Regions from separate parts of the Homo sapiens genome. Here all the other regions are linked to region 3. The links come from fine-mapping of genetic effects on gene expression. A gene starts in region 3. Each other region holds a variant in brackets. All regions are shown on one strand. Distances are from middle to middle. Region 1 has its middle 3.0 kb from the start of TMEM167B. Region 2 overlaps SORT1 (sortilin 1). Region 3 holds the start of PSRC1 (proline and serine rich coiled-coil 1). Region 4 overlaps SORT1 (sortilin 1).

Evidence for each region.
Region 1: its variant is fine-mapped to the expression of PSRC1 in naive CD8 T cells (Schmiedel 2018, PIP 0.95).
Region 2: its variant is fine-mapped to the expression of PSRC1 in whole blood (TOPMed, PIP 0.92).
Region 4: its variant is fine-mapped to the expression of PSRC1 in spinal cord (GTEx, PIP 0.98).

The regions. Positions count from the first base shown.
Region 1 is chr1:109,084,965-109,090,574 of GRCh38, forward strand. No RefSeq gene overlaps it. Among named protein-coding and RNA genes, the nearest start is that of TMEM167B, 3.0 kb to the right of the region's middle. RefSeq lists an enhancer at 5,434-5,610. The variant CT/C (reference allele first, on the strand shown) is at 2,210.
Region 2 is chr1:109,367,263-109,372,872 of GRCh38, forward strand. SORT1 (sortilin 1) reads right to left here. Exons shown (of 20, transcript NM_002959.7): 2 at 2,268-2,327; 3 at 146-219. Among named protein-coding and RNA genes, the nearest start is that of SORT1, 28 kb to the right of the region's middle. The variant A/G (reference allele first, on the strand shown) is at 2,167.
Region 3 is chr1:109,280,180-109,285,789 of GRCh38, forward strand. PSRC1 (proline and serine rich coiled-coil 1) reads right to left here and starts at 2,966. Exons shown (of 8, transcript NM_001032291.3): 1 at 2,884-2,966; 2 at 2,501-2,557; 3 at 2,339-2,396; 4 at 1,440-1,881; 5 at 958-1,072; 6 at 598-867; 7 at 217-310. The coding sequence starts at 2,519. RefSeq lists enhancers at 3,335-4,060, 3,428-3,477.
Region 4 is chr1:109,310,911-109,316,520 of GRCh38, forward strand. SORT1 (sortilin 1) reads right to left here. Exons shown (of 20, transcript NM_002959.7): 18 at 3,762-3,868; 19 at 3,351-3,474; 20 at 1-3,147. The coding sequence ends at 3,133. Among named protein-coding and RNA genes, the nearest start is that of MYBPHL, 6.7 kb to the left of the region's middle. The variant G/A (reference allele first, on the strand shown) is at 2,774.

The DNA of each region.
Region 1 (5,610 bases), 200 kb before region 3:
TGCTGGGGCTACAGGCGTGAGCCACCAGGCCAACCACAGATACTTTTAAAACAAATTGTAGCAGGAGGAGCCTCAGACAAAACTCCTCAGACACCGAGTTAAAGAAGGAAGGGGTTTGTTCGGCTGGGAGCATCGGCAAGCCTCCTGTCTCAAGAGCCGAGCTCTTCAGGTGCTCAACTTGTGCTTTTAAGGGCTCACAACTCTAAGGGGATCCACATGAGAGGGTCATGATCGATTGAGCAAGCTAGGGGGTACATGACAGGGGCTGCAAGCACCAGTGGTCAGAGCGAAACAGAACAGAACTGGAGGTTTCACAATGTCTTTCCATACAATATATGGAATCTATAGATAACATCAGTTGCTAAGTCACGGGTCGAATTTTAACTACCAGGCTTAGGTCAGGCAGGCCTAGGCCTGGTTTCAGGTGTGGTTCCTAGGCACTGGGCTACCTGCCTTTAGTTTCTCTTCTCTTTCCTTTTCTGAGTATAGAACAATATGAGAGGGTCTCTCTCTTCCCTCAAAATGAACAACAATAATAGCTATCATTTATGGAATACTTACTCATGTCAGATATTGTTGTAAATAGTAATTCACTTAATCCTCCAACAACCTTAGAAAGGAACTAACTTAATTTCACAGAAAACTGAACTTTTTTTTTTTTTGAGACGGGGTCTCACTCTGTCACCAGGCTGGAGTGCAGTGGCGCGACCTCAACTCACTGCAACCTCCTCCTCCCGTGTTCAAGCGATTCCCCTGCCTCAGCCTCCCGAGTAGCTGGGACTACAGGTGCGTGCCACCACGCCCAGTTAATTTTTGTATTTTTAGTAGAGACGGGGTTTCACCATGTTGGCCAGGATGATCTCAATCTCTTGACGTGATCTGCCTGCCTCGGCCTCCCAAAGTGCTGGGATTACAGGCATGAGCCACCGCACCTGGTCAACTTTTTGATTTTAGAATATAAAAGTCTTGATACAACTAATTTTGAAATAGCCTGGTGAGACTCACTCTATTCAATTAAAAAAATGTAAAATATCTTTTACAATATGAAAAAGAAAAAATATGGTGGAGGGAGAAAGAAGAAATAAATTTAAGAGTGGGAGAAAAAAAGTAGGAAGAATAGAGACAGACGTGGAAAATGAAGAAAAAGTAAATTTTGAGTGGAGTTAAAAGAAAACTGTTTAATCATAAGATACTGTGTGCATTATCACTGCCCTTTAGAAATAGTAATTTGAGGCCGGGCACGGTGGCTCATGCCTGTAATCCCAGCACTTTGGAGCCCGAGGCAGGTGGATCATGAGGTCAGGAGATCAAGACCATCCTGGTCAACACGGTGAAACCCCGTCTCTACTAAAAATACAAAAAATTAGCCGGGCGTGGTGGCGGGCGCCTGTAGTCCCAGCTACTTCGGAGGCTGAGGCAGGAGAATGGCGGGAACCTGGGAGGCGGAGCTTGCAGTGGGCCGAGATGGCGCCACTGTACTCCAGCCTGGGCGACAGAGCGAGACTCTGTCTCAAAGCTAAAATAAAATAAAATAAAAATTGGAATTTGCCACTGGGTGTGGTGGCTCACGCCTGTAATCCCAGCACTTTGGAAGGCCGAGGCGGGCGGATCACGAGGTCAGGAGTTCAAGACCAGCCTGGCCAACGTAGTGAAACCCCATCTCTACTAAAAATACAAAACTTAGCCGGACACGATGGCGCATGCCTGTAGTTCCAGCTACTCCGGAGGAGAGGCAGAAGAATTGCTTGAACCCAGGAAGCAGAGGTTGCAGTGAGCAGTGATTGCACCACTGCACTCCAGCTTGGGCAACAGAGTGAGACTTTGTCTCAAAAAAAAAAAATTGTAATTTGCCAATTCATCACTCCTCCTGGTTTTTCAGCTTTGATTTCATCCTTAATTTTTTTTTTCTGTTTATGAGACACAGTCTTGCTCTGTCTCCCAGGCTGGAGTGCAGTGGCGTGATCTCAGCTTAATGCAACCTCTGCCTCCCCGGTTCAAGTGATTATCCTGCCTCAGCATCCCGAGTAGCTGGGATTACAGACAGACACCACCACACCCAGCTAATTGTTGTATTTTTAGTAAAGACAGGGTTTCACGATGTTGCCAGGCTGGTCTCCAACTCCTGACCCCAAGTGATCCACCTGTCTCGGTCTCCCAAAGTGCTGGGATTACAGGTGTGAGCCACCATGCCCAGCCTTTACATTTTATT[CT/C]TTTTTTTTTTTTTTTTGAGAGGGAGTCTCACTCTGTTGTCCAGGCTGGAGTACAGTGGCACAATCTCGGCTCACTGCAACCTTCGCCTCCCAGTCTGAAGCGATTCTCCCTCCTGCCTTAGCCACCTGAGTAGCTGGGATTGGAGGCTCACGCCCCCATGCCCGGCTAATTTTTGTGTTTTTAGTTTTGTGTTTTTAGACAAGGTTTCACCATGTTGGCCAGGCTGGTCTTGAACTCCTGACCTCAGGTGATCTGCCCACCTTGGCCTCCCAAAGTGCTGGGATTACAGGCGTGAGTCATTGCGCCCGGGCTTAACTTTTTTTTTTTTTTTTTTTTTTTTTTTTTTTTGTGGTGGAGTCTCACTCTGTTGCCCAGGCTGGAGTGCAATGGCACAATCTCGGCTCACTGCAATATCCGTCTCCCAGGTTCAAGTGATTCTTTCGCCTCAGCTTCCTGAGTAGCTGGGATTACAGGCACCTGCCACCACTCCCGGCTAATTTTTTTGAATTTTTAGTAGACACGGGGTTTCACCATGCTGGCCAGGCTGGTCTCGAACTCCCGACCTCAGGTGATCCTCCCGCCTCGGCCTCCCAAAGTGTTGAGATTACAGGCGTGAGCCCCTGCGCCCAGCTGATTAACTTTTATTCTAACCTCTGAGAATGACAGAAGAGGAAAGACTTGTCTTTCAGAGTATGACAAAAACTGAAGAGGTTTTCATCTAGTTAAAAAAAAATGGGGAGAAAAAATTATCTCTAAAAAGTGAGTGGCATGAGCAAAAATGAGAAAGCAAAGACTGTAACTGAAGAACATAGTCTTTATAGACAAAGCTTAAAGCCCATATAGGGAACAGTGGAAAATACTATTGGAAGGCCTTGAGTAGCAGGCTAAGGACTTAGGCATTATTCAGTAGGTAGTGGTTGCTGTCAAAGGAAACACCAGTGTGGTATGGAGGAAAATTTTCTAGTCCTGATTTCAGAAGGCTGGAATTATTGTGCCAGTGTAATACTTGGCAGTCCTTACCCTAAACCTTGGTTTATTTCTAAAACAGGGGTAATCAGGCAGTTGTGAGGGTTAAATAAGATCATATGACAAGGTGTGTTTGCTTTGAAAATGTCAAAATGTTATAAAAATGTAAGTTTTCATTGTTGTGAGGACATAATTGATACTTAAAGACTACCGATATAGCAAAATTACTAAGGTGATGGCTGTAGGATTACAAGAGGGGCAATTTTTTTTCTTTTCTTTGTTTTTTTTGAGACGTAGTTTCACTGTTGCCCAGGCTAGCGTGCTATGGCAGGATCTCAGCTCACCGCAACCTCTGCCTCCCCAGTTCAAGCGATTCTCCTGCCTCAGCCTCCCAAGTAGCTGGGATTACAGGCATGTGCCACCATGCCCGGCTACTTTTGTATTTTTAGTAGAGACGGGGTTTCTCCATGTTGGTCAGGCTGGTCTCGAACTCCCGACCTCAGGTGATCCGCCCACCTCGGCCTCCCAAAGTGCTGGAATTACAGGCGTGAGCAACCGCGCCCGGCCAAAGGGGGGCAGTTATTATTATTATTATTATTATTTGAAATGGAGTCTCGCTCTGTCGCCCAGGCTGGAGGGCAGTGGTGCTGTCTCGGCTCACTGCAACCTCTCCCTCCCGGGTTCAAGCTATTCTCCTGCCTCTGCCTTCCGAGTAGCTGGGATTACAGGCGCACGCCACCATGCCAGGCTAATTTCTGTATTTCTTTTTTTCTTTTTTCTTTTTTTTTTTTTAAGTAGAGACGGGGTTTCACCATGTGGTCAGGGTGGTCTTGAACTCCTGACCTCAGGTAATCCGCCTGCCTCGGCCTCCCAAAGTGCTGGGATTACAGGCGTGAGCCGCGCCCGGCCAGCTGCTGCTGTTTTAGACAATGGTTGATGAAGGATTCGAAGGCCTAAACAATAGAGCTTTTGTTCTGTTTTGTTTTTGAGTGGTCCTGAACAGTTCTTTTGGGCAGGGGAATTTGTCTGTGTGTGAATGTGCAAACATATATATAATCTGAGTGGCTGCCTGGCCTTGTCCTAGGTTTTGTCCCGTATATACGCCGTCTTTTTTTTTTTTTCTTTCTGCATGTATGTATATTTTCTCAAGGCATCTGTCCTGCACTAGACTTTGGCTTGTCTTTCCAGGCCAGCTTCCAGAGGATGCTTTGGCAGTTTTCCCTCTGGGTAACCAAGCAGGCTGCAGCCAGCAGATGGCACTGCAGCAGAAAGGGGCAGAGTCCCTTTAGGCCCTTGACAAGCACGGCGGATTAGTAACCGTATAATTTAACCCTCCAGTTAGCCTTGGAGGACTCGGTGTCGCACTTCCGCCCGAACTCTAATAAAGCGGGCCGAGTTGTGTGCAATTAAGGATTTCAGTATGCAAATCTGAATCTGTACTTTTGTCTCCTCCACCCCACCCCCATCATTAGACTGGCAATGTCTTTTGTCACGTTGTCAAAGTGTCCTCAGAGAAGCGGTGTCTAGATATCGCCGATTTCTGGTTAAAGTGGCTGAAGTGATCCCAGCATTAATTAAATGCAGGAGAATCGAGATTCTCCTGATAGTTTAAGGAAAAGAAAAATTCACACAAGCAAACGGGCAACCCTTTGAATGTTTTCCGACGACGTGGTGCTTTAGGATCTGAAAGATGCGACTTGGTTTTTGTTGTTGTTGTTGTTGTTGTTGTTGTTTTTGAGACGGAGTTTCCGCTCTTGTTGCCCAGGCTGGAGTGCAATGGCGCGATCTCGGCTCACCGCAACCTCCGCCTCCCAGGTTCAAGCGATTCTCCTGCCTCGGCCTCCCGAGTAGCTGGGATTACATTACAGGCATGAGCCACCATGCCCGGCTAATTTTGTATTTGTAGTAGAGACGGGGTTTCTCCATGTTGGTCAGGCTGGTCTCGAACTACGATCTCAGGTGATCCGCCTGCCTCGGCCTCCTAAAGTGCTTAGATTACAGGCATGAGCCACCGCGCCCGGCTAATTTTGTATGTTTAGTAGAGACGGGGTTTCTCCTTGTTGGTCAGGCTGGTCTCGAACTCCGACCTCAGGTGATCCGCCTGGCTCGGCCTCCCAAAGTGCTGGGATTACAGGCGTGAACCACCGCGCCCGGCCGCGACTTGTTTTTGTTACAAGGTTCCTCATTTCATTTGCAACGTTCAGACGCAGTCTGACTAGATTTCCATCCGGAGTAAGGAAGAGCAGCTCAAGGGCAGTCACGGAGGCCGCAGGTGCGGCTTCTTCACCCGCGGTGCTGGAGTTCTCTCAAGTGGAAGCCCAGGACGATGAAAACCTCATAGGTAGGCTGCTGCTTACACACAGCAGCCGCCACGGCGCAAAATAAACTACAAAACTACAAGCCTTTACCTTTTCAAACACACTGACGCGGGCC
Region 2 (5,610 bases), 87 kb after region 3:
GCTGAGTGTGACAGTCTGGTGAAAACTTAGGATGGCTAGAAGATCTTTTACATCAACTGTTACGTGCCATCATGTCTAGAAAAGGGAGAATCTATATTCTCAATGTTACTTAGTGAAATGCTCCAACGCGTGTTATTGATCTCACCTTCGATATAGCTTGGACTGTCCAAAAGTCATAATTACCAGTGGTACATGGAAGGTAGTCAAGACTAGAATGACCTGGAGAGAGAAAAAAGCATTCCGTAAATAAAAAAGATATTCCAATCACATGCTGATATGTGTTCGAGATTAAGCCAACACCTAAAAGACTTTTGATATCCCTACTTTGTAGTACTCCCCAAAGTCTAGAAGGATCTAGTTACTAGGGCTGAGAATGATGAGAAAGTCCTCAGCTCATTTTGTTGGGATGATCCCCATTGCCTCCATTGAAGCAGTGAGGCTGACTACTCAAATACACATTAAAATAAAAGAAGGCTTTAACTATTTTGTATCCAAATTATTGTAAGATACTCTCAGGCAAGAACCCTCTTCCCTTTTCTCCTTACAGAGTCTAGAATAGCGTGGGTGTTCTCACAGAGATCACTGTGTCATGTATGTCTGTCTTTTTCTTCTCCTTGCCGTTGGTTCTTCATGAAATTCATTTTTTCAGTACCTTATCTACCAAAAACTATGCATGAGGAAATGATTCTGGATGGATTACTATAAGAGTCTAGGGAGTCTCAGAAAGCCATATGAGAAATCTTGGAGATGGCTGGGCACGGTGGCTCACGCCTGTAATCACAGCACTTTGGGAGGCTGAGGCGGACGGATCACTTGAGGTCAGAAGTTCGAGACTAGCCTGGCTAACATGGTGAAACCCCATCTCTACTTAAAATACAAAAATTAGCCGGGCGTGGTGGTGCTTGCCTGTAGTCCCAGCTTCTTGGGAGGCTGAGGCATGAGAATTGCTTGAACCTGGGAGGTGGACGTTGCTGTGAGCCAAGATTGCACCACTGCTCTCCAGCCTGGGTGACAGAGCAAGACTCTGTCTCAAAAAAAAAAAAAAAAAAAAAAATTCTTGGAGATACCAACTATCTAAGATAAATGGGTAAATCATGGAAATTAGGGTACAACTCAAATTTTAGAAAAAACTGAACTATGCTTAAAGAAATTCTACTGAAAGTTTAAAAATTAATCAAAATAAGAAATTTACAATTTGCTTTTCAGCACCAAGATTTTATTTCTTTAGGCTTCTAATATAACTATCATGTGCCTCAATGCTATGACACATGCATTATGGAATACCAGGGGGCAGGAGATGTTGCCCCTGCTCTTGTTCAAGCAGGATAATAAGACAGCCAGGCAACAAGTCCTGATTTAAGACCAGGGGCCAATGTATCCTCAGCGTGTCCTCCTAGTGGGAGCCCAGCTGTATATCAGGAGGGATAAGGAGCTGACTGATCCTCCTTCCATTCCCCCAATCCTGGCAGTACCTCCTTTGTGGCAGGGGCAGGGACCAACAGATGAACAACCATGAGCCCATGGGCACCACAGTCCCTCAACACACCTGTAGGAAAGGACACAGGAACAATACAATTTGGAGGAAAAGTGCCAGGATGTTTTTAATGGACATTTTCTGTTTCTATATAGGGGTTTCCCCAAGCATTGTGCGCTTCCCTTCTCAGTACAGAGCACTTTCATCTTTCTTCTTGCTCATCTTGATGCTAAGCAGCCACCAAGGACTGAAAAGGTGTCCATCTTCCCACCGTGGAAGAAGGTGGTCAGAAGATGTTCCCGGCCAGGCGCAGTGGCTCATGCCTGTAATCCCAGCACTTTTGGGAGGCTGAGGCGCGTGGATCACCTGAGGTCAGGCGTTCAAGACCAGCCTGGCCAACATGGTGAAACCTCATCTTCACTAAAAATACAAAAAATCAGCTGTGCATGGTGGTGGGTGCCTGTAATCCCAGCTCCTTGGGAGGCTGAGGCAGGAGAATCGCTTGAACCCGGGAGGTGGAGGTTGCAGTGAGCTGAGATCATGCCATCGCACTCCAACTTGGGCAACAAGAGCGAAACTCCGTCCCCACCCCCCCGCAAAAAAGATGTTCCCAATTCTAAAGCAAAACCAACACAACTACAACTTCCTGAAAGTCTGTCTTGCAAACATGTGTTTTCTGTGATTGAGGCTAA[A/G]GACAGTTTCAGGAAGAAATGATATTAGGTGCTTAACCCTTCCCCAAATCTGTTATCATCTTCTTGCTGGGCTGAAATAACAGACTCAAAATATGACTTACCCCAGTGCTATCTCCAACCCAGGACAAGGATACTGAGCCTCTGAGATCATCAAACACATGCTATAAGGGGAAAAAAAATTAATTTAGAAATGACAGCCACTCTCCTTCAATCTTTGGCTTCTTTAAATATCTGAACTTTATTACTGTTCAGAGTAATTAAGTTCATAATTACAAAGTGGGTATGGATTCCCAGTACAAAATTTGGGAGGGATGGGATTTAACTACTTAATGTGAATCACAAATAACTTGGAAATTTAAATTCTCTCTAACACAAAGTAAGCCAAGCAGATGAGTTTTCTTTACTGCACCAGATGGGGAGATGGGAGATGGGACAATCTAATTGCTTTCTCCAACAGAACTAAATATAAAGGTATAGCAAAGTATTTTTAGGATGCTTTAAAACAAAAGATCATAGCCCACACTGGCAGGCGTAATTGTAACCAAATCAACATAATTTAAATTTTTCTGGGCATCCTTTACAGTATAGCTGAAAAGTTCGTAACTGGATTCCTTTTACTTCTAGTCTAGCTCACTCAAAAATGACAACGGGCAGAAGCAAGAAGCAAATGCCTTTGTTTCACCTTTTTATTTAATAACAATAGTAATAATGATAATAATAAAACAACCTTACTAGAGTTGCAGTGAGAGTAAGGAGGTAAAAAAGGGAAAGCTGGTATATTATATCCAAAATATAGTAAGCATGTTAAAATATAGTTATAATAATCATTGTAGGTGGTTTTGGGTTTTGTTTTTCAAATACTTCCTTTCTCTACTTATACAATAATATATATTCATTAAAGAAGATGTAGACAATTATAAGAACGCATAATAAAGATAAGTCACTCATAATCCTACCACATAGAGATATTCAAGGTTAATATTATATGTATTAATACAATCGTCTGTTCTCTATAATTTTTGTAACTGATAAAAAAAATAAAAATTCCAAAGAGGTAATAACTGCACTTGGCAAAAATTTCAAACCATATAGAAATTACATACTATATAGAGTCTATATAGCAAAGAGTGAAGATCCTTCTCTTTTCCAGGCCACATGCTCACCACCCAAGCCCCATTTCTTAGACAGTTTAATAGTTCAGTATATATTTCTAATAAATGTGGATGATTATGCTTTTTTCTTAAGACTTATAATCTTACTAAGATTTTAAAATCTTAAACATGCCTTGCCCTCCCAGATATGAGAAGCTCCTTGGAAGCTGGGGAATGTAACTTTATACTTCTTGGTACTCCCTGTGCCTTCCACAGGAATACTTTGCACACTCAGTAAGCATTTGTTGAAAATGATTACACATCCTCCCCAAACCACAAACTCAACCTCAAAATAGAACATGTCTATAAATGGTTGGGATGCCAGCTACTTGGTCACTCAAGCCACCAATCCCACATAGAAATCTAAAGAAACAGAACTCAAAACATGAACTGTTTTGTTTATCTTCGAATTTTCTCTTGCAGTCTTGAATGGGCTTCCGAATTCACGTATGTGATTTCCCCTCTGGACCGTAAGTACCTTTGATGTCAAAAGAATCTCTTACACAATTTTTGTAAGTTAGTACAATCAGTGCCTCACGCAGGTCTTGCTCCGTAAATAATGGTTAACTCTCAAATGCTCGGCAGAGCTTCTCACAGCCTCTGCAGGAAAGAAGGGCTATTCAGACATGCAGGCTTGCCAGGCATCTGAGAAAAAGTAGGGCTGCCAGAGCTTCTGAAACCAGAGGCTTAAAAACTGACATAGCAGTGTGTCTTATATGATATTTCACACATAGCAAAACCTCACATTCTCTTGAGTGAGGATAGTGTCTGAAATGACATCAATGAGGTCCTTCAGGAAAAACAGGAACATCCAGAGCTACCACAAGCACCAGGCAGATCACAAGGGCTAAGATCACAGTCATCTAAACACAGGTTATCTTTCCAAGGAAGGTCCTTGTCATAACTAAGAGAAAAGAAAAAGTCCATCAGTTATGGCACTGGAATTCGTGGTTGTCTTCATCAGGCTGTAAGATATCAGTCTTGAGCCAATCAGGACTGCAACTTTTACTTTTCAGGCAATGCTCTACACAGCCGACCCAGTCAATGCAGACTGGCATTACCCACATTTTCCTATTGCTCAACTACAGAATGAGGAGGATTATCACGTGTCACCGGCAACTCTCAGCTTCACTGAAACAACTGAAATGGTAATGGACCTCACTCATCATCCAAAGAGTTCCTTTGGAAATGTAGGCCAGATTTACTAGCAAAACTGTGGTTTTCTACTGCCCTTAAGCTGTCCCTCCCACCCACTCCAAATAACCAATGAAGATTTGCTTTTGAAAATGGGCAAACTCACTGAAAAACTCATCTACCTATAGCAAATGTAATTAATTTTTTAATATTTCAGTCTCTAACATTCTTATACTGGTGAAAGTTAAAAAAGAAAAATGAAATGAGATGTTACAGCAGGCCCAAAGGTTAAGCAGAAAGAAAAGGTCATATGGAAAGGAGATAAATCCAGGAGAGCTAGGGACCCAAGAGTACAGATTCAATCCTGCCACTTCAATGGGAGAAAAAAATACGGATGTCCAGGAAAGGGCAGACAACCTGGTCATGGTTAGGAGACAGAATTCACAAGTCAGCACAAAGCCATCAATCCTAATCCAGAATCATTTCTAATATTTAAGACAACGTACATGTCATTCTACACTGCAGTGGCATCTTAGATCTTTCAAAATATGTATTACAGCACTTTTAATTGTAGCCACAAGAACCTTGCCTGTCCTCCCCACTAGACCTGAGGTCCATCTGGTAAAGGAATCAAGCCCATACATTTCAGCAGCTAACACACAGCATAGTGCACAGTGGGCACGCAATAAATATTGAATTCTTTAAGAACTACTTATGAAGTTTTGAAAAAGATGACGCCCAAGTAAAAGGATAAGGCCAGGCCCACTTAACTTCCCCATGACAGACATGAGTATGAAATGTAAAAGTTCATTTCTGGGTGGACTTCTGCTTCTGGTCAAGATGGAGTGACAGGGATCACATTTACCTTTCTACCGGAAACAGCTAATAAAAAACAAAACAAAACAAAACAAAAACACAGAATGGGCCGGGCGCGGTGGCTCACACCTGTAACCCCAGTACTTTGGGAGGCCGAGACAGGCGGATCACGAGGTCAGGAGTTCGACTGAAACCCCGTCTCTACTAAAGATACAAAAAATTAGCCGGGCGTGGTGGCGGGCACCTGTAGTCCCAGCTACTCCGGAGGCTGAGGCAGGAGAATGGCGTGAACCTGGGAGGCGGAGCTTGCAGTGAGCCGAGAGCGCGCCACTGCACTCCAGCC
Region 3 (5,610 bases):
GCTTTAAAATGCCCTTCTTCCTCAAGCCCATTTGTCACCCAGCAGAATTCAAGCTCCTCAGGGTGGGAAGAAATGGGATCCCCCTTCCCCTGCCCCAGGCTCCCCTCCTCTCTCCATCTTTCCATACAAAATTCAGGGCTGATGTGCATAACAGCTTGGAATCCCAGATGATGGCGGGGTAGGGAGACAGGATGGGCAAGGGAGGACCAGACTGACCTGGTAGGTCCTGGGACTGCCACTTTCCTGGGGGGCTGCAGATTGCTGCGAGTGGCACCCATGACAGGAAGATTTAGTCGCTGGGAAACAGGAACTTCATGGGGGTTAACAAAAGAAATGAGTTAGCAGCAAGTTTAACTGACCTCGAAAAGAAATACTGGATGAAGGGAGCGAGTGTGGGATTAGTACTCTCCCCCTGACCATGAGGTATTTGAAAACTAAGACTCAGACTCTGTCCAGCCCCATATCCTCTCTGTAACTCAGTCTCCCCATCTTCCAATTGAATTGCAATAAGGATGGCAAAAGTGGTCACTGTTGACAGCTCTGGGAGGGTGAGGACACGCTGGGCAAGGGCGGGCATTCTTCCTCCTGACCTCTTACCCTTGTGTCCACTTTCCCGCACTCTGTGTCCTGCAGTGCTTGGTCTTGGAAGCCCTTTTCGAGTTGACAGAGAATCCGGAGGTAGGGCACCTCTGCCAGGTGGCACACTCCGGCTGGTGAGTGGCATTCGGCTGGCAGGCCTGGGGATGGCCGAGGGAATGGGCAGTTGACTGGAAGATTTAGCAGCTGCTCCCTGCGGCCGGGGCAGGCGTTGAGAGTTGCTGGTAGAAGGCTGTGGGGCCAGGACGGATCTGATGGGGGTGGGTGGGCCTGGTGGAGAGGGGTGGAGAAATTTCAGGGTCAATCCCACAAACTCCCCACTCCCACTCACCCGCAACTTGGCTGCTCTGGTCTCCTCACTGGCTGCTGCTCTCCCACTGGGCCCGGCTCTCCCCCGGACTGGGGGAGTCGATCGGGTAAGAGGAGAAGATGCTGGGCTTTTGGATGCAGGGAACAGATTGCAAGTGGGTGACTCCTGAAACACAAAGAGAGAGAGAAAAAAGACTAGAGTGGAAAAAATATCTGTTCTGTGGCTTAAGGAATTAAGAAATAGAGGTGGAGAGTTGTCTACATCCCAGTAAGGAAGGGTAGAAGTTAGCTGCTAACATCACCACATCACCATCACCATCACTATTGCCAATACCATTTATTGAGTTTATCATAGACATATACTCAGACACTGTGGTAAGAGTTTTGGTTCTCTTTTTTCATGGTTCTCATTTAATTCCAACAATTCTAGATGTAGAAATGCTATCCCTGTTTTACCAATAAGGAAACCACTCCCTGCATCATGGCACACACCATGTCTGGGGCACACCTCCAACTCAACTCTCTCAACTCACCCTCTTCATGTTGGAGGGCCTCTTTCCAGATGTAGCCCGGAGAGCCCTGACTGACCCCTTCCTATCATTACTCCGGAGTCGAGGCGTCAGGCTGCTTGGGGAGGGGGTGCTCCGCGTCAAAGAGTTCACAGTGGGCAGCAGGTCTCGGACAGGACTATCCTTCAGCACAAAGGTCTCCCGCCGAGGACTGGGCTTCACTCGGCGAGGCCCCAGGCCCTCGCCTGCGCTCTCCCGATCCTGCAGGGCACACTGCTCCAGCTGAGCGGCCAGCCGGTTGGCCTCATCGAGGATCTCCTCCAGCTTCTCTGGACTGAGGGGGCCTAGGCTGAGCCTCACACCCTGGGGGGCAGGTGCCACTGCATTTGGGTCACTTCGGTGGGAGAGGCCCCGTCGAAGTGGTTTCTCTGGAGTCACCAACACTGTTATGTCTTCCTCCTCACGGCTGAGACAGGAAACAAACCAGGCATCATGCCCATGCAAAAGGGAACAGGAGATTATGCAAGGGAGACTGCATAAAAGCCCCACAACAGAGCCAGGGACATGACCCTAGGCCCCGATGCCCATGCTGGCTGTGAGATGTGGCCTCTGGGCGATGAGATACCTGGTTCTATGGGGCCTAATAGGCCTTTAGCATTTACGGACATCAGAAATGATGCCAGGATGGAGATGCAGCAAATCCACTTATCCTTCTTCTTAACACCCTGAAATCTAACTCCAGCTTCTCCCTTCTCTCCCCGCTACCAATAGTGTCATAGAGGCCCGAGTCAGCCAGCCGCCCAGCAGCCCCAAGTGCGCCAAACCTTGCTAAGTTACCAACCCAAGCCAATAATTCAGCAGTAAGGGATTCGAGACAAAGAGGTACTGTTAGAGGAAAATAAGTGGGATAAAGAGGCTGGTACCTGTCAGATGGTGACAGCCCCCCAAAGTCCAAGGTCTCATCCACAATAAACCTTACATCTGAAGGGGAAAGAAGAATGAAAGCCAGTCATGGGTCCCTGATGCAGCTCTCCATCGCTGGGTCTCACTCCTCCCTTTCATTCTTCCCTCCCTCCTTTCCTTACCTTCCTCCAAATCCTCCATGTCCAGCCAGCAGGAGCGAGAGTCCAGTTAGATCTGAGCTGGAGAGAAACCATACCTTTCCTCAGGTATCCATTCTGCCCAAGGCTCGCAGCTAGATTCAGGGTGCAAGCCAGGGTCGGGGGTCATGCTGGAGGCAAAGCAAGCGCCCAGGAGTGGCACCTCCCGCACAGCTACTCCTGCTACCTCCGGGAACGATACGGAGGGCTCCCCCAACTGCCCAGATTGCCCTGGAGCCGCCCTGCATCCTGGCCTCTCCTCACTGGGGGCGGCCTGCACGCCCCATCTTCCTCCCCGCCACTATCCTCAGGGTTCTGCACTCCCCAAGCCACCTTTCCACTCCCCTGGCATCACACGCGAAGCACACCTCCAGCCCACCCTGTGTCCACTTCCCGCGCCGCCTTATCTTCCACGCAACAGGCTTTCTCCCGCAACCTAGTCCCGGGAATCAGCTCCGAGGGGGCGGGGCTCCTTTCGAATCTCTCAGGCCCCACCTACTCAAGCCACACGCGCACCGTGATTGGTGAATCCTCAGGGGGAGGGGCTGAGGAGCTGCCGGCCGGAAGTCAGCCGGTGGGGGCTGGGGGAGAACCGTTCCCAGAAGACTGCATCCCGGTGGCGGAGCCGAGGGTTGAGGCTGCGAGTGCGCGTGCTCGCGTGCGCGGAGACTCTCTTTCCCGTAGGCAGATGGGAGCAGAGCGCGGCTGGCCAGGAGGGAAGAAACGGACCCACGAGTATGGAACTCGCGCCCCGCCCCGCTCCCTCTGCTGGGCCGCCGAGCACCCAGTCTCCAGAACGGTTGTGCTGCCTAACGTGGCCGCTAACCGACGCTCTACGGGAGGAAATTCGTTTTCTTGGGCGCACTCAATATGCAGGCGCCGCATTGGCCGAGGTTCCTCAGTTGTGGGTTTTTTCCAAGTTAAGGGAGCACCTAAACACTTATATTGTAGGTATATTGAGGTTCTCTTAGAAGTACATCCTCCATCGCCTCTTCAAGAACCTGAGGCAGCTGAGGTGCAAAGAAAGCAACGGGCTTTTCACGCAGGCAGGCTTAGGTTCAAATGCAACCCAAGTTTAACTGACCTCAGAACCCAAGTTTCGGTTTAGAGGCGGCTGCCTTGAGTATATTTGCCCTCTTTTCACCTCTCTTCGCTTATCTGTGAAAGGAGGATGTTGGTCCTCGCAGTTACGGTGTTACGAGGATAATTATGAAGGCGTTTTCTACCGTGTGCCCTTAGGGGATTTAGAGGGGGTGTTTGTAAGTAGCCCCCTCTGAACTAAAAGCAGTATTTGTAAAATGCTTAAACCAACTTGTTAGGAGTGTTGTCTCTGTTGTTTCTAAATGTTGCCCGGGCCACCAGTGAACTTGTCAGAGGCTTCAAACCAGAACGACTCCATCTGGAATAGAGGCTGGGTAAAATAAGGTTGAGACCTGGGCTGTATTCCTAGGAGGTTAGGCATTCTAAGTCACAGGATGAGATAGGAGGTTGGCACAAGATACAGGTCACAAAGACCCTGGTGGTAAAACAGCATGCGGTAAAGAAGCCAGCCAAAACCTACCGAAACCAAGATGGCGATGAAACTGACCTCTGGAGGTCCTCAGTCCTCATTATACGCTAATTATAATGTATTAGCATGCTAAAAGACACTCCAGACAGCATCACCACGGTTTACAAATACCATGGCAACATCAGGAAATTACCCTACATGGTCTAAAAAGGGGAGGAATTCTTAGTTCCAGGGAGTTGCCTACCCCTTTCCCGGAAAACTCATGAATAATTCATCCCTTGTTTAGCATATAATCAAGAAATAACCATAAAAATGGCCAACCAGCAGCCCTCCGGGCTGCTCTGCCTCTGGAGTAGGCATTCTTTATCCCTTTTCTTTCTTAATAAACTTGCTTTCACTTTATGGACTTGCCCTGAATTATTTCCTATGCAAGGGCCAAGAACCCTCTCTTGGGGTCTGGATCCGGACCCCTTTCTGGTAACAACAGGAGGAGACAGCAGGTCCGCACAAGATACAGATCTCAAACATCCCTCTAATAAAACGGTGCAGTAAAGAAGCCGGCCAAATCTGCCAGAAACCAAGATGGTAAAGAAAGTAGGCCAGGCGCGGTGGCTCACGCCTGTAGTCCCAGCACTTTGGGAGGCCGAGGCGGGCGAATCACGAGGTCAGGAGATCCAGACCATCCTGGCTAACACGGTGAAACCCCGTCTGTACTAAAAATACAAAAAATTAGCCGGGCGTGGTGGCGGGCCCCTGTAGCCCCAACTACTCGGGAGGCTGAGGCAGGAGAATGGCGTGAACTTGGGAGGCAGAGCTTGCAGTGAGCCGAGATCGCACCTCCGCACTCCAGCCTGGGCGACAGAGTGAGACTCCGTCTCAAAAAAAAAAAAAAAGAAAGTGACAGCTGGTCATCCTCACTGCTTATTATATGCTAGTTGTAATTCATTAGCATGCTAAAAGACACTCCTGCCAGCGTCCTGACAGTTTACAAATGCTATGGCAACGTCTATATGGTATAAAAGGGAGAGGAGCCTTCAGTTCCAGGAAATCATGCTCCTTTCCCAGAAAACCTATGAATAATCCACCCCTTGTTTAGCATATAATCAAGAAATAACCATAAAAATAGCTTACCAGCAGCCCTTGGGGCTGCTCTATGGAGTAGCCATTCTTTTATTCCTTTACTTTCTTAATAAATTCACTTTCACTTTACTCTGTGGACCCGTCCTGAATTCTTTCTTTTGAAAGATCAAAGAATCCTCACTTGGGGTCTGGATGGATCAAGACCCCTTTCCAGTAATAAACTGAGCTCCTAGAAAGGTTCTGAATATTTAAAGTGAAAAAGCCCTAAGGGAATGGTTGAGGAGCTTTCTGGTAAACAGAACCTGAGCTTTAGTCCTCAGAGTTCATGCCCATTTTTTTGGCCATTTATAGGCTTTCTTGTTTACTTTCTAGTTTTTGGCTGTGACGTTGAGGTGGTGAGGTCTGCAGGAGTGAGATGTCACTGTAATAAATGCCACCAGAGACCAAGAAGCTGGAAACCAAAAATAAAATTCTAAGCCCCCCAACCAACTGAATGGACCCCTTC
Region 4 (5,610 bases), 31 kb after region 3:
TGTCAAGGATGAAAGACCACCTTGGGCATGGAGAGGCCCAGAGGCAAGCATCAGAGCAAGAGAGAGGAGGTGGGAAGTCCATTCAGAGGCAGACGTAGATTCTACGTTCCAGTTACGGCTGATCTATGGACTCTCCTGAGCCCGCCCCCAGAACTGCCGCAACTCTCCAAAGGCTTTTATTCTTTGAAATAGAGTTGCCATTGAATTAAAAGCCTACAGGAGAGACGGGCCTGGTCTGTGGTCTCACTAAAGCCCAATGCCCAATTAGGTCCAGAGAAGAAAGAAGAGTGAGTTCCCTACCTGGATTTAAGAACTCGGACCACTTTGGACTGGTTTGTCCAATCTCTCTTATAATGCTAAATTCCATTGCTGAAGCCTCCAGAAATGATCTCTTCTGCTACATCAAGCCTGGGAGTTTACACAATGATACACTATGTTTTACCTTCAAAGATAATGCTCCTAACATGAGTAGGACAAATTAGAAATCTATTTTTTTAGAAGCTGTAACAGATTTGGGCTTTCTTACTCTCTGGCTGAGGGCACACATTTGTGAGTGAGCAGGTTGATAAAGAAAGCTAACTAGCCAATAATGAGAATGAGCCAGGCTGGCTGTCAGTCTTCAAACCAACAGAGCTAGCCAGCCCGGGGTGGAAACCAGGATGGGGAGGGAGACCCATCAGTGGAGAGTCCACTCCTGCACTCTTGAGCAGTGACCCTCAATGAGGGGAGGGGCAGTTTCTGCAAACGTATTTAAAATTCCCATTACTTTTGTTTTCAGCCATGAAAGACAGGAAAATACAATTTTCTGTTCACCAAGGTGGCAAAAAGGTGCTAAATACTGCTAGGAAACAAATGCCACTGATCCCTGTCATAAAGAACAGCAAGTCATCTACAAGAAGGCAGCCTTGCTCAAAGTGGTTAGCACTCGCATGTGTAAAGATTTCCAAGAGTTCTGAAGACAGCCAGCCAGCACTGCTTATCACACACACGGGGACCCTGAACAACTGACTCCATCCCAAGAACATTGTGAGGTTCAAATGACATTATGTGAGTGAAGGTGCTCTGAAAATTTGCCAAGTTCCACAGAAATCCCAGATATCATTAAAAGCGAAGAGCCCTATCGTATATGGTTAGAGAAGAATATTGAGTTTCCTACGTCTTAAAATGAGTAAGAGGATTACCATGTATTGGTGCATCTGCCCACAGTGAGTACATGCTGGGAGAAAGGTGAGTGGTATAAACAGTTCTTTTCTGAGTACCAAATTCACTTTGGGCAGGAGGGAGGGTGGGGCAGAGGCTGACGTTTTCATTTGTGAGCTGGTGTATCTTCGGAATTATTTTTAATTTTAAAACCATGCAAAATGAATAAGCAAAAAGACTAGTGCACTCCAGCCCTAACCATATTATCTTCACAAAAACTGCCTCAACTTTATTTTCTAACTGAAGCTCCCTGACTCATTTCATTCTACTGCAGTTTTAACATCTCTAAAAGTCTCCATCCACTCTCTCCCCCACTTTCCACGCAGCTGTTAATCCATTCTGGGGAGGAGAGAACTTAGCCATCTGCTCACATTCTGACTAAAGTTAATTTGGCACTTCAAATAAAAAAAAAAAAAAACACACAAAACTGACTTTCTAGCCACAAAATAAACTAGTAGCAAATGGTATCTACCAAAGAATGTCCCAGTCATAATCATTGGGAGAAACTGTGACCCGCACAGTAGCTACATTAAGACCAAAAACTTTCCATACTATATTTCTATATAGCAAATATTCAAGCTGTATTAAAACTAATTATTGCAGCTTTCCATTACTATATGGCCACCCCAAAATCCACCCAACTACATTCTATAATTTATTTAATTTAGAGAGGTATCAAATGGAAAACTTCTTTTAATCCAAAATAAGAACTTAATGTATCACACAAAGCATCATCTAGACTGGAAGTGTGTTTTCAATTGGTTCCTCCAAAATTTTCGTGTCAACAAATTACTTGGCAAAGTCAGAAAAAAGGGGTGAGAAGGAAAGCCTGGTAATAAAATTCTAATTTTTTAAGTCTATAAATCTGAAAAAATCTCTAGTCCTGGTTCCATGTACAACAGCAACCTAAGAAGCAGCAGATAGGCAGCCATTGTCATGATTTAGCAACGAGCCACACGACAGTTAAGAAGGGAACATGGAAGACTGTGAGGTTCCGTCTTCGGGGGTTCACACTGTGTACCCGACAATCAACTCTAGGGAAGAGATCATTCAGCCTGGGCAGACTTCCAGCTAAGTTTGTACCCTGTCCTTGCGTAAGTCTACTGGCACACACACAAAGCACAGCTTGAAAAATCTCAGAAGAAGCAAGAGTTCTCTTTTAATAGGTGCTATATCTAGTCAATTCTCTGCTGCTCCCTTCTTCCTGCCCCAAGTTAAAAATATTGCCCTGTAAGTTTTCCTGATGTACTGTGTGGGAAGCACATGGTTAAGTTAGTTGCCAAAGGGCAATTAACAAGGGTATTGCCTAATTAAACAAGGGAAAAGAAAAATCACTGTGGTCTGTGGTCTCTGAAAAAAAAAAAAAGAGTAAGTGGGATCTGTGTGAGGAGCTGGTGTGCAGTGTTCTTGGAGTAGGACTGTCCCCAGATGGAGAAAAGCCGGCCAGGCTGTGCCAGCCTCTGCAGCCTGTTTTCATCTCTACAGCTGTTTCGTCTCGCCAGCAGAGCCCAGGGATGGTACCAAGTACACTGTGAGAGCTGATACTGGAGTTGGCAGATGCCCTGGGGCAGGC[G/A]CCATGCAGAACACACAGAAGTGGGGTTAGTGAAAAGGTCCCTTCGAATTCCATTTCGTTTCCCTTAAAAAACAAAAACAAAAAAGCCCATACTTTGCAAAGAGACAGGACGAGAAATAAGAAGTTAAAGAATTTAAAATGTCTCCCTTTTTCTCAGAGCCAATTGTAAAAAAGTGCTCAGGGTTCCCCACCCCCACCCTGCATTTCTTTAGTGTAGGTCCTTTTGGCTTTGATGGAAGCAGCAGAAACAGAGCTGGGTCCCTCGCAATGGGAAATTTATTTCCTGAAGTTGGAGCCACAGGGAGTGTAAGAGGTACTGTGGTTCCACCATCCATGCTGGGTCCAGCTCCTCTGAAGAGCTATTCCAAGAGGTCCTGAAAAAGACATGCACCATATTACCGACAGACCACAACACTCCTATTTCAAAAGCAATCACCTAGTTTCTGGGCTTGCCAAATCTTATGGTCATTAAGTCGCCTTGGCCCTGGCATATCTTGATCATGAATAGAAGACAGACTTTATTTTCTTGTATTTTTTGGGGGGGGGGGTACTACCATTCAAGAAGAAATAGCCTCACCTCATCTGAGTCATCATGATAACCACTTTTATTAGTGTGGGAGGCTGTGTCCAAAGCATCCACACCATCCACACCATTGGCCTCTGCATGCTGCTGCAGCACAGAGTATCGATGCACCAGGAACCTGTGAACAGAAACCTCCTTAACACTCGGTGGTACACAGCAGGGGTGCACTTCTTACAGGACTGTGGACTTTCTCAGTTTTATACACTCAGGAACGCATCACAGACACAGAAAGCACAGTCCATGGTTGACATATGAAAAATGTACGACATGAGAAGATTTGGGCCTGATTTTTCAGGAACAGTACTGCAAGTACCTAGTTTTTGCCAAGAGTAGACTCAGCCATATGCCCTAGATCAGCCTTCTGGCTTGAACTCAGTACCTTGGATTGACTTCTGTGTTCCTTACCTTCCCCCACAGACATATTTCTTCACAATGAGCACTCCTGCTACGACTGTGACCAGCATCAATCCCACGATGGCCAGGATAATTGGAACAGAATTTGACTTGGAATTCTTGAGAAATTAAAACACAAACACAAAAGTTTTAGGCATGCATATCCTAGGACTGAGGTCAAGGCAGCCACTCATTCCCCTCATCTCTTTGTGAATGATCTGCAGTCCTGATGCGCTTAATGATGGCTCTTTTCCAACCCCCCAAGATGAACCATCTCAGTGTTACCAGGAGAATATTATAGCTGGCAGAGAGTCATCTTAGCTCCAACTGCCTTGAACCTTCAAATTCTGTGGTTTAAATGTCAAAGTTACACTGGAAGCCTGGGCAACTGCCTAGATCAAGTATGATTGCTTCACACTACCACTGTTCACAAGTCTTGGGGCTTAAGGGTGGAGTAGGAAAGGGAGACTACTGTAACAGTAGGCTGAATGACTCTAGAACAGGGCCATTATCTGGGAAGAAGCTGTGTCAGAAGAACCAGGCAGGCCATTATATGACACCAAGATTTATTTGTTTACTTAATTTTTTATATATTATTATAAATAAGCCTTATCATATCACTGTTTGCATGTGACCTACCTGCTTCTGGGTGGGAAATAGGGAGTGTGTGTTTTCAATGTATCCCAGAGGAGGCAGAGCTGGATTCTAGGACAAGCTGTGTCCCTGTGGGTGGGAGTCCTGTGCAATCACACACACGAACACTCTGAGGAGAGTCACCAGGAGCCCAGGACAAGGGTGCACAGAAGGAGGAACTCGCCCCCTTACCAATACACACACTCACACACTCCTCTCCCATCATCTCCTTAATCCCACCCCTTGTCAGTCCCTCATCCCTTAGAACAGCAGAGAGGAGGGACTGCAGGTGATCCAGCTTGACCTCTCCTATTACGAATTGGGAAACGGGCCTGCTGTTGAGCATCTGAAGTCATGCTGCTGGTCTAGTGTTTCATTATCAAGAGGTTTCCTCTTTACACATCTCCAGTTCCACAGGTAGTTCAGTGCTACAGATTTGGATGCAGCCTCATAACCTTTTTTTTTTTTTTTTTTTTTTAAATTGAGACAGGATCTCACTCTGTCACCCAGGCTGGAGTGCAGTGATATGATCATGGCTCACTGCAGCCTTGACCTCCCAGGCTCAGGTGATTCTCTCCCTTCAGCCTCCTGAGTAGCTGGGACTACAGGCACACACCACCACATCCGGCTAATTTTTGTATTTTTTTTGTAAAGATGGAGTTTCTCCATGTTGCCCAGGCTGCTCTCCAATTCATAGCCTCAACTGATCTCCCCACCTCAGCCTCCCAAAGTGCTGGGACTATACAGGAGTAAGCCACCATGCCCGACAGGTAACTTGCTTCATTTAAATCAAAACCAGCCCATTACCATAGCTCAATTTTTCACTTTGAACATACTTAACATGACTTGGTCAGAGATCCACCCTACCTATTGCCCAGTGCTCTTCTCTTCCACACATGCACAATTCCAGGTCATGGCCCTTCACAGACAACCTTTTTTTTTTGGTACGGAGTCTTGCTCTGTTGCCCAGGTTGGAGTGTAGCAGCACGATCTCGGCTCACTGCAACCTCCACCTCCCAGGTTCACATGATTCTCCTACCTCAGCCTCCCGAGTAACTGGGACTACAGGCGTAAACCACCACACCCAGCTAATTTTTGTAATTTTAATTTTTGTATTTTTAGCAGAGACAGGGTTTCACCATGTTGGACAGCCTGGTCTTGAACTCCTGACCTCAGTGATCTGCCTGCCTTGGACTTCCAAAGTGCTGGGATTACAGGTGTGAGCCAC